Linked DNA regions of Homo sapiens: region 2 is linked to region 1. Evidence: fine-mapped expression QTL. A gene starts in region 1. The other region holds a variant in brackets. All regions are shown on one strand. Distances are between the middles of the regions. Region 1 holds the start of IGF2BP2 (insulin like growth factor 2 mRNA binding protein 2). Region 2 overlaps IGF2BP2 (insulin like growth factor 2 mRNA binding protein 2).

What was found. PIP is the estimated chance that this variant, and not a neighbour inherited with it, causes the effect.
Region 2: its variant is the best candidate, but not a certain one, in a credible set for the expression of IGF2BP2 in tibial nerve (GTEx, PIP 0.68).

What each region holds. Positions count from the first base shown.
Region 1 is chr3:185,821,853-185,827,224 of GRCh38, reverse strand. IGF2BP2 (insulin like growth factor 2 mRNA binding protein 2) reads left to right here and starts at 2,183. Exons shown (of 16, transcript NM_006548.6): 1 at 2,183-2,442; 2 at 4,012-4,072. The coding sequence starts at 2,265. RefSeq lists silencers at 1,366-1,455, 1,866-2,135, 2,147-2,377 and an enhancer at 3,317-4,180.
Region 2 is chr3:185,762,397-185,767,768 of GRCh38, reverse strand. All of the region lies in intron 2 of IGF2BP2 (insulin like growth factor 2 mRNA binding protein 2), which reads left to right. Among named protein-coding and RNA genes, the nearest start is that of MIR548AQ, 2.8 kb to the left of the region's middle. The variant A/G (reference allele first, on the strand shown) is at 2,939.

The DNA.
Region 1 (5,372 bases):
TTTTTCTAGAGAGAGAAAAAAATATGTGAATACTTGAGACAAAAGCCAGAATTCAAATAACTGCAAATATCTAGGTGAAAATGGATTCATTACTTTCTCCTCTGGATACCTAATTAGTTAAGAAGATCTCCTTCTGTAGAATAAAGTATTTTAAAAGTTCATGAATTCCTGGGGGAAAGAAGAGAAACAGGCATTAAGTGTCTGACCACCCATGTCTCAACACGCTAGGCAGTTATCCTTCTTGTAGCCCTCACAACAGCCCTGCGAGGACTGGTTATTTTATCTCCTTATAGATGAAGAAACTTAGGCTCGAGAATGCTGGAACATCTCAGGGCACAAAGATGGGGGCAGAGAGAAGGTCTGAGTCCGGGGCAGATAGGCCTTCCACTCCAACAGTGTTTACCAGACCAGAATCACCTGGGAGTACTTGCGGAAAATACAAAATCCAGCAAGCCCCATTCTCTCCACGCCGCTCATCAACAGGAAAGCTTGGGAAAGACAATACTACTTCACGACCCAGTCAGGAGACCCGAACTTGTTCCATTCCTACATTCGTGACTTCTCCACCCAAGGACACTCCCCGCACCCGCGCCCCAACGCCTTCACAAAACCCAACATATCCGCGATCAAACCTTCAACTCTCCCAGTGGCCCCCAGAGGTCCAGAGCTTGGAATCTTCTTCTGCCTCCTCACCTCTGAATCCCGCCATTCTTCTCCCTCCTGTAGAATTTCATTTCCTGGCTGGGACCAGGCTCTAACCATCAGGCTTCCAGCCGGGCCCCGGAACTTGCAGCCCGCTCTAGCCTGTCTGGCTCCTGCCCGAGCCCCTCGGCTCCAGCCTGCTCTCATCCCAACCCTGCCTCTTCCGTCGGTCACGTTGTTTCCTCCGCTTGGAAGGACCTCTTTCCTCTCCGGGCCCTTCCCAGTGCTCGGGGAACTCCTACACAGCCTGCGCTCCTCCGCTTCCAGCCACCCTCGCCTCCCACCACCCTGGCTTTGGAGCTGAACCGGCCGCGCAGCCGGGCGGCGACCATCCGTCCCCCGGCCGCTGACCCCAGCGCTCCGGCCTCGCCGCAGTCCCTGGCCCCTCGGCGTTCGTTTCCCCACCCGCCACCTGGCTTTCGCCGCCGCCGCCCGGGAAGCCCTCGGCACTTCCCAGAATAGAGAGCAGCTGCCAACGTCAGGCTGCCGCCTGCCGCGGGGTTCCGGACACGCGGGGTCTGGGCGGAGAGGACGTGACTCCGCGCTGGCCTTCCGCCTTCCCTCCCCGGTCGGGAAACTGAGGCCCGGGACCGGGAACCACTTCCCCGCGAGCACGGTCCGCGAGGGCCCGGCCAACCCCGGTCCTAGGCGTCCCGACTCCCGCGCGCGATCCTTCGACCACACGCGCCGCTCGGTCACCTCAGAGAGCGTGGCGGGGAGCGGGTCTCAGAGCGAGCGCACGGCCCGGGAACGCGCAGGGCGCCAGCCCCGGCCAAGTCGCTGCGAAAGTTGTTGTCTCCCAGCCTGCCCTCGCCTCTCACCTCCGGGACACACCTTCCCGCTTGCCCTGGCAGCAGCGCACTCACATCCGGTCCACCTTGCGCACACCCCTCTCCGCGCTCACTCGCAGCCCCTCTCCCTCCCACGCCCGCGGCTCCCCGTCGCCCCCTCGCGCGCTCCCACCCGCGCCCGGGGCGCGCCTTCCCCGCCCCGCCGCTCGCCCGGCCTCGGCGCCGCGCCCGCCCGGGGTTCCGGCGCCCGGAGCCCCAGCCCGGGGCCGCGACCCGCTTCCGCCCGCCTGGCGCGGGGCCGGAGCCCGAGCAGCCACTGCCGAGCGCGGTGGGCGCGAGGCGAGGGGCGCAGCGGCGCGGGGCGGGGAGGGGGCGCTCGCTCGCTCCCTCTCGGCTGCGCACACGCCCGTACAAACTCTCACACAGACACACGCGGGGTGCGCTGCCGCCGCCCGCCGCTGCTCCTCCTCCCGCCACCGCCTTGAGAGGGAGAGAGAGGGAGGCAGAGAGAGCGCTTTGTCCGCGCGCCGCCGCCCGGCCCGGGACTCTGCCCCGAGGAGGCAGCCGCGCCGAGTCCCCGCCTCCGCCTCTGCCCCCGGGCGGGCCGGGCCGGCCGCGGTGGGGGGAGCCAGGCTGAGGGTGGGGGTGGGTGGCGGGCGGGCGGAGGGCGGGGAGGGGGGGCGGAGGAGGAGGAGAGACGAGGGCAGCGGAGGAGGCGAGGAGCGCCGGGTACCGGGCCGGGGGAGCCGCGGGCTCTCGGGGAAGAGACGGATGATGAACAAGCTTTACATCGGGAACCTGAGCCCCGCCGTCACCGCCGACGACCTCCGGCAGCTCTTTGGGGACAGGAAGCTGCCCCTGGCGGGACAGGTCCTGCTGAAGTCCGGCTACGCCTTCGTGGACTACCCCGACCAGAACTGGGCCATCCGCGCCATCGAGACCCTCTCGGGTGAGCACTCAGCGCGGCCCCCTCCCCCCGCCTCGCCCCGCTCAGGCCGGGACGGCGCCGGGAGGGAGGCCGAGTCCGGCGGGCGGCGCCCGGCGGCGGCTCCCGCGCCCGCACGCTCACTTCCACGCACCAGACCCTCAACTCTCGCCGCCGGCCCGCTCCTGGGACGGCCCGCTCCCCTCCCCCCACAGCTCTGGACTCTGCCCTCGCCCTCGGGGCCGCAGCCTTGGGGCGCCCCCCGTGCCGCTCCGAAGGCTCCCGAGGCTCGCCGGCTCCTTAGGGGCACCCCTCGTTCGCCTGGCGCCCCGGGCTGCTCTGAGCTTCCCCGCCCCCCACCCTTTGAGCGTCCCCTGTCTCACTTCTCCCCTGACCTTCCTGTCACCCCCTTTGTCAGGGTCCCCCCTTCCCCAAATCCAGCGTCTCTTCCTCCTCCCCCGGCCGGACCTTCTCTCTTCCAGTGCCTCGTGCCCAGAACCTCTCGCCCTCTGGCGTCTCCTGAGCCGCACTCTCCTTTCGAGCCCCCTCCCCACCTCGCCCCACGGCCCCCCACTTTTGGCACCCCCTCGGCGCCACCCTGGTGACCCCCTTCGAGATCTCGGGGCTCCCCCAGCCCCAGCCCTCGCACGACGGCACATCCCCTCGGTCCTTTCCCGAACCTCAGTCCCCTCTCGCTTGCTCTCTCAAGCGCTCCTATTTTTCTCTGAATTTTTTGTCCGATTTTATTGAGAAGAACTCGGGGCTGGGGGCTTTCCGCCGCCCGTCCCCCCGCCTCCCGCTCGGCCAGAAGCACCTTTTTACGAGGTGCCCTGTCTCAACTCGGTGGGGGCCAGGGTTGAGAACCGGGAAAGAGGCGACCGGGGGGCCCGCGAGCGCGCTGGAGCCCAGACAGGAGACGGAGAGCGACACACACACACACTCGCGCGCGCGCACTCCCCAACTCTCCCCAGCACACGCTCCGCTCCCAGCCGCGCGGGCCCCCGGGCCCCGGCCGGCGCCCCCCGAACCCCGGCCCGGCGGGAGCCCCTTCCCCACCGGCGTGTGGAGTGGGGGCGGGGCGGCGGCGAGGCCAAGGTGACACCCAGGAGCGGGCAGGGACAGGGCTGTCGCTGCGGCGGACTCCGGGGGGCTTCGGCTCGTTTTCTCGGGGCCACCGGGAGGAGAGGGCAGGGAGGGGAGCCCGGTGGAGCCTTCGGGCCCCGGATTAGCGGAATGGAGAGGTGGGGGCCGGGAGAGCAGCGGGGCCGCGCCAGCCCTGCAGCTTGAGTTTCAAATGAGCTCATCCTTTCAAATTGGCGCCGCTCTTTATTAAATTTGTTTTTCCGGTAATGCCACCCACGGCTATACCTGGGGTCCGACCCGGGCTCGCACCCTCCTCGCCTTGTCCCGAGACACGGGGCGCCCACCTTTCTTTCTACTGGGAACCAAGTTCGCCCAGCTCGATCCGGGTAGGAGACCCCTTGGGGGCGCCCGAAGGCGGAGCCCGAGCGTGGAGTTCCGTGCGTGCCCCCCCTAGACCCCCGCGGGCTTGATCTAAGCAAGGTTCTGAGTGCTTTAATTTCTGTTTTAAAGGTAAAGTGGAATTGCATGGGAAAATCATGGAAGTTGATTACTCAGTCTCTAAAAAGCTAAGGTAAATATACTTTGCTTAGTTTTTTTTTTGCGATTGGCCTTACGTATAAGTAAAAAACGTACACACAGCTTTAAAAAACGTGCTCTTGGTAGTTTTTAAAGGGGCTTTTGTTTGTTTTGTTAGTGGAGATACATAGTTTAGAAAGCTACTTTTTTTTTTTTTACTTTCATTATATAAGGTGTTTACTGTTCTTGGAAAATATCTGGTGCCTAATTGGGGGTCGGGGTGGCGAACACCAGCTATGTTCAGTTCGCTGGGACCCTGTAACTTGTTTATCAAAAATTGCCTCCCACCCCCACCTCCCGCCCCTACCCCCAGCAGAATAGCAGCAAATGCTTGTCAAGACTTCCTGTGAGATGTGAAGAGTAAATATTTACTATGTCAGCTAAATTGCTTAACTAAACTTAGCGATTAATTACTTTTCTCTTTTAGATAGTTTAATGTTGAATAGTAAAATAATTCAGTAAGGGGTCAATATTTTGCATAGCTTTCTAAAGAAGTGGGTTGTTTGGATTGGATGGCAGTTAAAAGCCGGACTTTTTCAGTCACTGAGACTACTGAGTATAGCTTCTGAGCATTTTGTTGTTGTTGCTTGTAAGAAATGTTTGCGGCTAAAATAAATACCCTTGTGAAATCTATAGTTATATTTAAGTGCACTGTTGTTAATGACGGAGTAACAAGTTTTGTGGAGGTTGGATTTCTCCACAGTGATTTGCTAACATGAGAAGAGAAGAGAAAACATCTTTGTTTAAAGTTTATTGTGGACTTTAAATTTGGGCCCTTTATTACTCATTCTAAATTTTTTTCTTCTGCTGTGTGTCGAAACTTAGTTTATATCCCATTCACATACATTTCTTCACCATTAGTCATTAAGTAGCTGGACTGGAGCTGTTCAATGAAGTTTTTGATGACCACCTTTACAGTTTATCAGTCAATAGTTTAACCACCTGATTTTTGTCAGGATTGAGTAGATTTTAAAACAAACTACCCTAATTTTATAAATACTTAGATGTGTTGCTGAAGGGATTTTTAAAAATTGTGTGCCACATTTCCAGATATGTTTTATTTTAAGTAAGCAACAGAATAACTTTTGTTTGCAAATAATCTCTGTGGCATATGAGAAAATTACTTAAATCCTGTTTTTTTTTTAATTTAAAAAAGGTGAGTTATGATTTGCAGTTTCATGTGTAATATTAAGCTAGTTCTTTCCTCTATTGGGAAAGATGTAACGTGTAACCAATTGGTTTTCAATAAGGTATTCTAAATTTGTATACTTTTCTTTAAAATAATATTTTTTGCT
Region 2 (5,372 bases), 59 kb after region 1:
ATTTTCAACCCTAATACATTCCATAATTTCACCCAACATATTCCAGAATTGTATTCCTCATTTCAGCAGCCTTATTTTAAAATATTTTATAATTATAAACTTTTTTTTCCAAGTAGAAGGTATGTTGATCAATATTTCCCCAAATATATTACTGTACTGGTAAGACATATTAAAAAATGGTTCAGTGGTCAAATACATTTTTCAAATGTTGTATACTTGTCCCTTTCTTGGAGATTTGTGAAGCACACATGCATTTTAAGGCTCTGAGAAGTCCTGTAGTAAAGAAATCTGTTTAACTTGATGTTTTATAATTTATTTACATAACTACAGAATCCTTTAACATCTTATGGAAATGGGATTGGATTTTAGAAGATAGTAATGATGGTGGGAAGTTGTTCTGGAAGGTTTTAGGAAACACTGTAGTATTATAAGGATTTCTTCTGAACTTGTGTTGGTCTCTGGTCATCGTTGTGGAGAACAGAATCCACAGAGTAGCTAGATTAAGCACAAAAGAATGCATTGAGGTATATAGATAGATCACAGAATTGTCGGACAGGCTGAAGAAACAGGCTGCAGGTGGAGCTTCTTGATAGTCTGCAGAACTGGTCTGCCAAGAGAGCTGTTGCCTATGCCACCATCGAGAAGCTTCTCCCACAACTGCCTCTGCCAGATTGGGAAGCCACTGGGTCCACAGTTGTGTGTCTCTATCCTAGCAGGAAGTGGGGCTGGGCAGTTTGTTTTCAGTCCTATTTTAGGAAGGAGGGACTTTACACTAAGGTGAACTATCAAATGTGGAGAGAATGTCTAAAAGACGGCAGCTACAATTAGCAGGCATCCAAGAAGACAGCTGTGTGTTGTGAACACCTTGGGATATAGGTCAGAAAACTGGGGTGTAGCCCTGGCCTTGCCTCTTAACTGCTGCATGACCTTGGGCAAGTCCACTTTCAAACTTGCGATCTCATCTCTAAACAGGATATAACTCACTGACTTGGAGTGAAGATAAAATGAAAGTAATAGGTGTGAATATACCAGGGAAAACTATAAAGTATTAAATGAAATCAGTAAAAAGTATTTTTCACAACCCAGGTTTGTCTCTAGACCAGGGGTTGGCAAACTTTTTCTGTAAAGCACTAGCTAGTAAATATTTTTGGCTTGTTAGATGATACTATCCCTTTAGTACCTATTCAACTCTGCAAGAGCAGCCATAGACAATATGTAAATGGATGAGCATGGCTGTGTTCCAATAAAACTTTATTTATGGACACTGAGATTTGAATTTTGTATAATTTTCACATGTCACGGAATATTCTTTTTATTTTTTTTCCAACCATTTAAAAAAAGGGAAAAACATTCTTAGCTTGTAGACTATACAAAAACAGGTGGCTGGCTGGATTTGACCTATCAACCGTAGTTTGTTGGTCCACGTTCTAGATCATTATACTTAAAATATTTTAAAATGTATTTAAATTTAAATTTAAAATATTTTAAATTGTTTTGCCTTAATGTAGTGGCAAATAAATTTGGGGCTTTGATGATATTGTCTAAATAGTTTTATTGCTATTCACTGGACCTGGTAGTAGCTTCCTCTTTGATAGTAGAATTAAATATGCTTAGTGGCCGTGTATAGCACCTTGGGCTTTATTTAGGTGAAAGCATCCCGAGAAGGATGAGTTTGCTACCCAGCCATCGGGTTCTTAGAACCTCCACATTTTCTCCCATCTTCATGTGTGCCTTTGGTTTTGGAAAAGGGATGGGGCAGTCAGATACTTCTTTTATGGGAAAAGTTGCATTTGGAGACATTCCCATACCCATGCCCACAAACTCTCCTCCGTAAACCTGCCTCATTCCCTTCTTTGGCATGTTCCGTATTTAGCTTTACAGCTTTGCTGCCTTGTGGACAAGAATTTTCCCCCCAAAATCTTGTTACCATTATAATATCTTCATCCCTATTAGAAAACCAGAATCAGAGTGTCTTCCTTGCACCCAAGTCCCATAGAATTTCTTTCAGCCAATGAAAGTCAAAGATAAGTTTGACATCAGTCACTGGAGATGAAGATGTGGGGTGAAGCTGCTGCAGTGGTGTGCTTTGGAGCAGCCTGGTCTACACTCCCTTGGTCCTCGAGCACTTCTGCGTGCCTTTCATGTATTAATAGATGGACCTTTCTCAATTCTCCTCTTTTCCCTCTAGGTGCAGGTGGAGTGTAGAGTGTGATGTAGGTACACTGGCATCTAGAAATGGAGAGCATAGAGGTGGGGGTGGCACTGAAGGAGGGCAGTGTGGGATCAAGGGGGGAAGGAGTGGTCTGAGATTAAGGAGGGGAGGTGGTGTGTTTGCCTTTCTAGGCGCACCTGCTACTTGGTGTGAGACAGGTGAGGCTGTGAGCTGTCTTTGGAGGAGGAGAGTACTTCTTAGTATATGAATGTTTGTATGAGCTTTAACTCAGGTTTACTGATTGAAAGAAACTATATTTAATTTTGCTTTGTATGTATCCCTTTTATTTGGGCTTTACTAAATATAGCTGGATGGGAGGGACGGAGGGGGAAACAGTGTGTAGAGCAGAAGTTAAAACACGCCAGAGCTTTGGCAGCTTTGGGACAGAAAAATAAAACTTTAAACTTGCTTTCTATTTTGAGGCCATCACAAGATGTTTTGTGCTTACATTCATTCCTAAGTCATAAACGGGTAGGAGGGGCTGGGAATTAAGTAAATTATCTCTTGAAAAATACTAATTTGAAATTGAGATAAAATTAGCAAAGGGAAGAAGGGGGAAGAAAGTAAAACACTGGACCCAGCCTGTTTGCAAGCAAAATAATAAACACCTCGTGGGGGTAGAAGAGGCGTGCCAGTGTCCTTCCAGATTTTGGCCTCTGCTCCTACACAGAGCCCCATTGTCTCAGAGCTGGGGGCAAGGCTGAGTGCTGTGAGAACTGACTTGAC[A/G]AATAAAGCCTGTCAGGGGATTTTGACACAGGTCAACCCCTTCTTGAAGCTGTGATCTCAGAGGCAACACGATTTCTTACTCACAGGCAGTAGCTGTCATACTATGAGCTGTTTTATCGTAATATAATTATCACATACAAGATGTGGTAATTGCCTATTTTTAGGAATCTCCCCACTGGGAATCATGGTGAAGATGATCTCTAGAAAAGCTCTCTGCGGTCCTGTGAAACAACCTCCCTTCTCAAGACAAGACTCCCCTTCCTGATAACCTGTTGCTGCTCTGCAGATTGGTCTCTTCACCTCCATCAAGGGCTTCTTGTCTGTTTCACTGAATATTAGGAATGCTTCTCCCTAGGCTTCAGCCTTGGGCTTTCCCCTCAGGTTCTGCTTGCCCCTTGGGACCTATTTGTGGATCTGCAGCAAAAACATAAGCAGAAGAAGTAGAGAATGTGTGTGAGGAAGCCACTTTGTGCTTCGGACATCTCATAACCCAGCCTCCTAAAGCATAGCCCTGATGAGGTCACATTCCTGCTTAAAAAATCTTTCATGACTGCAGACAGAAAAGACTGAAAGGAAATGTGCCAAAATATTAGCAATTTTTTTTTTCTGAGTGATGAGCTTTCTGGTGATAATTTTTATTTACTTTATGGATTTTACTCCTTTCCAATTACTTATATAATAGACATATAATAGTATTTTTTAAGAAAAGTGTTATTTTTATAATAAGGAAAAGTACCATTTAAAAACCTTTAGTGGCTCCCATTTGCCAATTAAAAATCCTCTCTATGACATTCAAGGTTTTGGCAATACTGCTACAATCCTTCTGACCTCACCCTCTTCTCTCTCTGCCCTCACTCCAAGAAACAGCAGCAGAACGGAGTTACCCACTGTCACCAAATACATTTGGTGCTTTGCCTTTGCTCATGCCCCTTCTCCACCCGTCAACTTTCCATCCTTCAAACAGATTTCTCCTTCTTTAGAGACTGTTTCCCATAACATACATCCTGTAAAAGACTTAAAAAAAACACGCAAAAACAAAGAACATTCTTAATCCCACTTCCTGGAGATAACCACTGTTAGCATTTTGATATATGTCTTTGTTCTGCAGCTGAGAGTAGTCTAGTATACCTTGGCTGTCTGTTACAGATTTTATATTCTATATGGTGGTGTTATTTATTTCTGTCTTATCTCCATTCTGGATTTTAAGTTCCTTGACAGCTACAAGAATGGCTTTACATTTTTGTAGCCTCCACAGGCCTTGAGCACAGTGACATTCACATAATATGCATTCCAAAATCATCTGCTGAATCAAACAAGGGAGATAAGACAAGCTTGTAACTTAAGCACAAACCATAGTAACAAACATAAACATGCTGGTTACATTATGAATATAATGCTGAGTATATCCATAAATGCTTAAGTCGCAGGAGAAATACAAATGCTTTAACCTTGGAGTGTCAGGAACAATTACATGACCAGGGACCTACTAAGGTAGGGTAATTTTGGTACAGTACATGGAGGAGATTCAGCCTTGAAGAGAGAAAAAGCTTGTTTTAAAATGGAAAAAACAAAAACAGAAACCCCACAGATAGGACTTGGTGTAGAAAGAGGAGGTGTTTGTACAGACCATTGATTCTCAACCCAGGTTTATGTTGGAATCACTGGGAAGTTTTTTTAAAAAAAATACCAGTGCCTGGATCCAATCCCAGACCAGTTAAATTAGAATCTCTGGGTGGGCTTAGCTGCTTTATTTTTTGTTGTTAAAAACAAAACAAAACAAAAAAACATCTATACAGGTGATTCTAATGAATCCCTGTTTTGGGATCCCCTGTATCCAGGCTTGAGAATCACATTCTAGGCAGATAAACCTTCTTAACAAATAAAAAGTAAGTATTTTGCTCTTCTCATATTGTTGAAAAAACCAGGAGATTGGTTCATCTTGAGGAAGGGAGGTTTTGGTGGGGGTGAGAATAGCTGCTGCAGATTGTTCTGTGTTAAATGTACTTTAAAGCACTTGGATAAAATTCATCCATTTGCTATTATTAAGAAACTCATCTGTGCCTCTTCAATTGCCCAGACTTTTCTCCCCTCTTGAAGGCTGCTTCTTCCTAGAGCAGTAACTGAAGTAGACTGCAGCCAGTATAAGCTCTATTATTGCATTCACCTCTATTATTATATCTAAGCTTCTTCAAGGGATTTGACCTGTATTCAAATACTATCAAAACACACTGTCTCTCAAACATGGTATTTCCCAAATTTGTGTCTCTTTTTCTTTTTCTTTTCTTTTTTTTTTTTTTTGAGACCGAGCTTCCCTCTGTCACCCAGGCTGGAGTGCAGTGGCATGATCTTGTCTCACTGCAACCTCCACCTCCTAGGTTCAAGCGATTCTCCTGCCTCAGCCTCCTGAGTAGTTGGGACTACAGGCGCCTGCCAC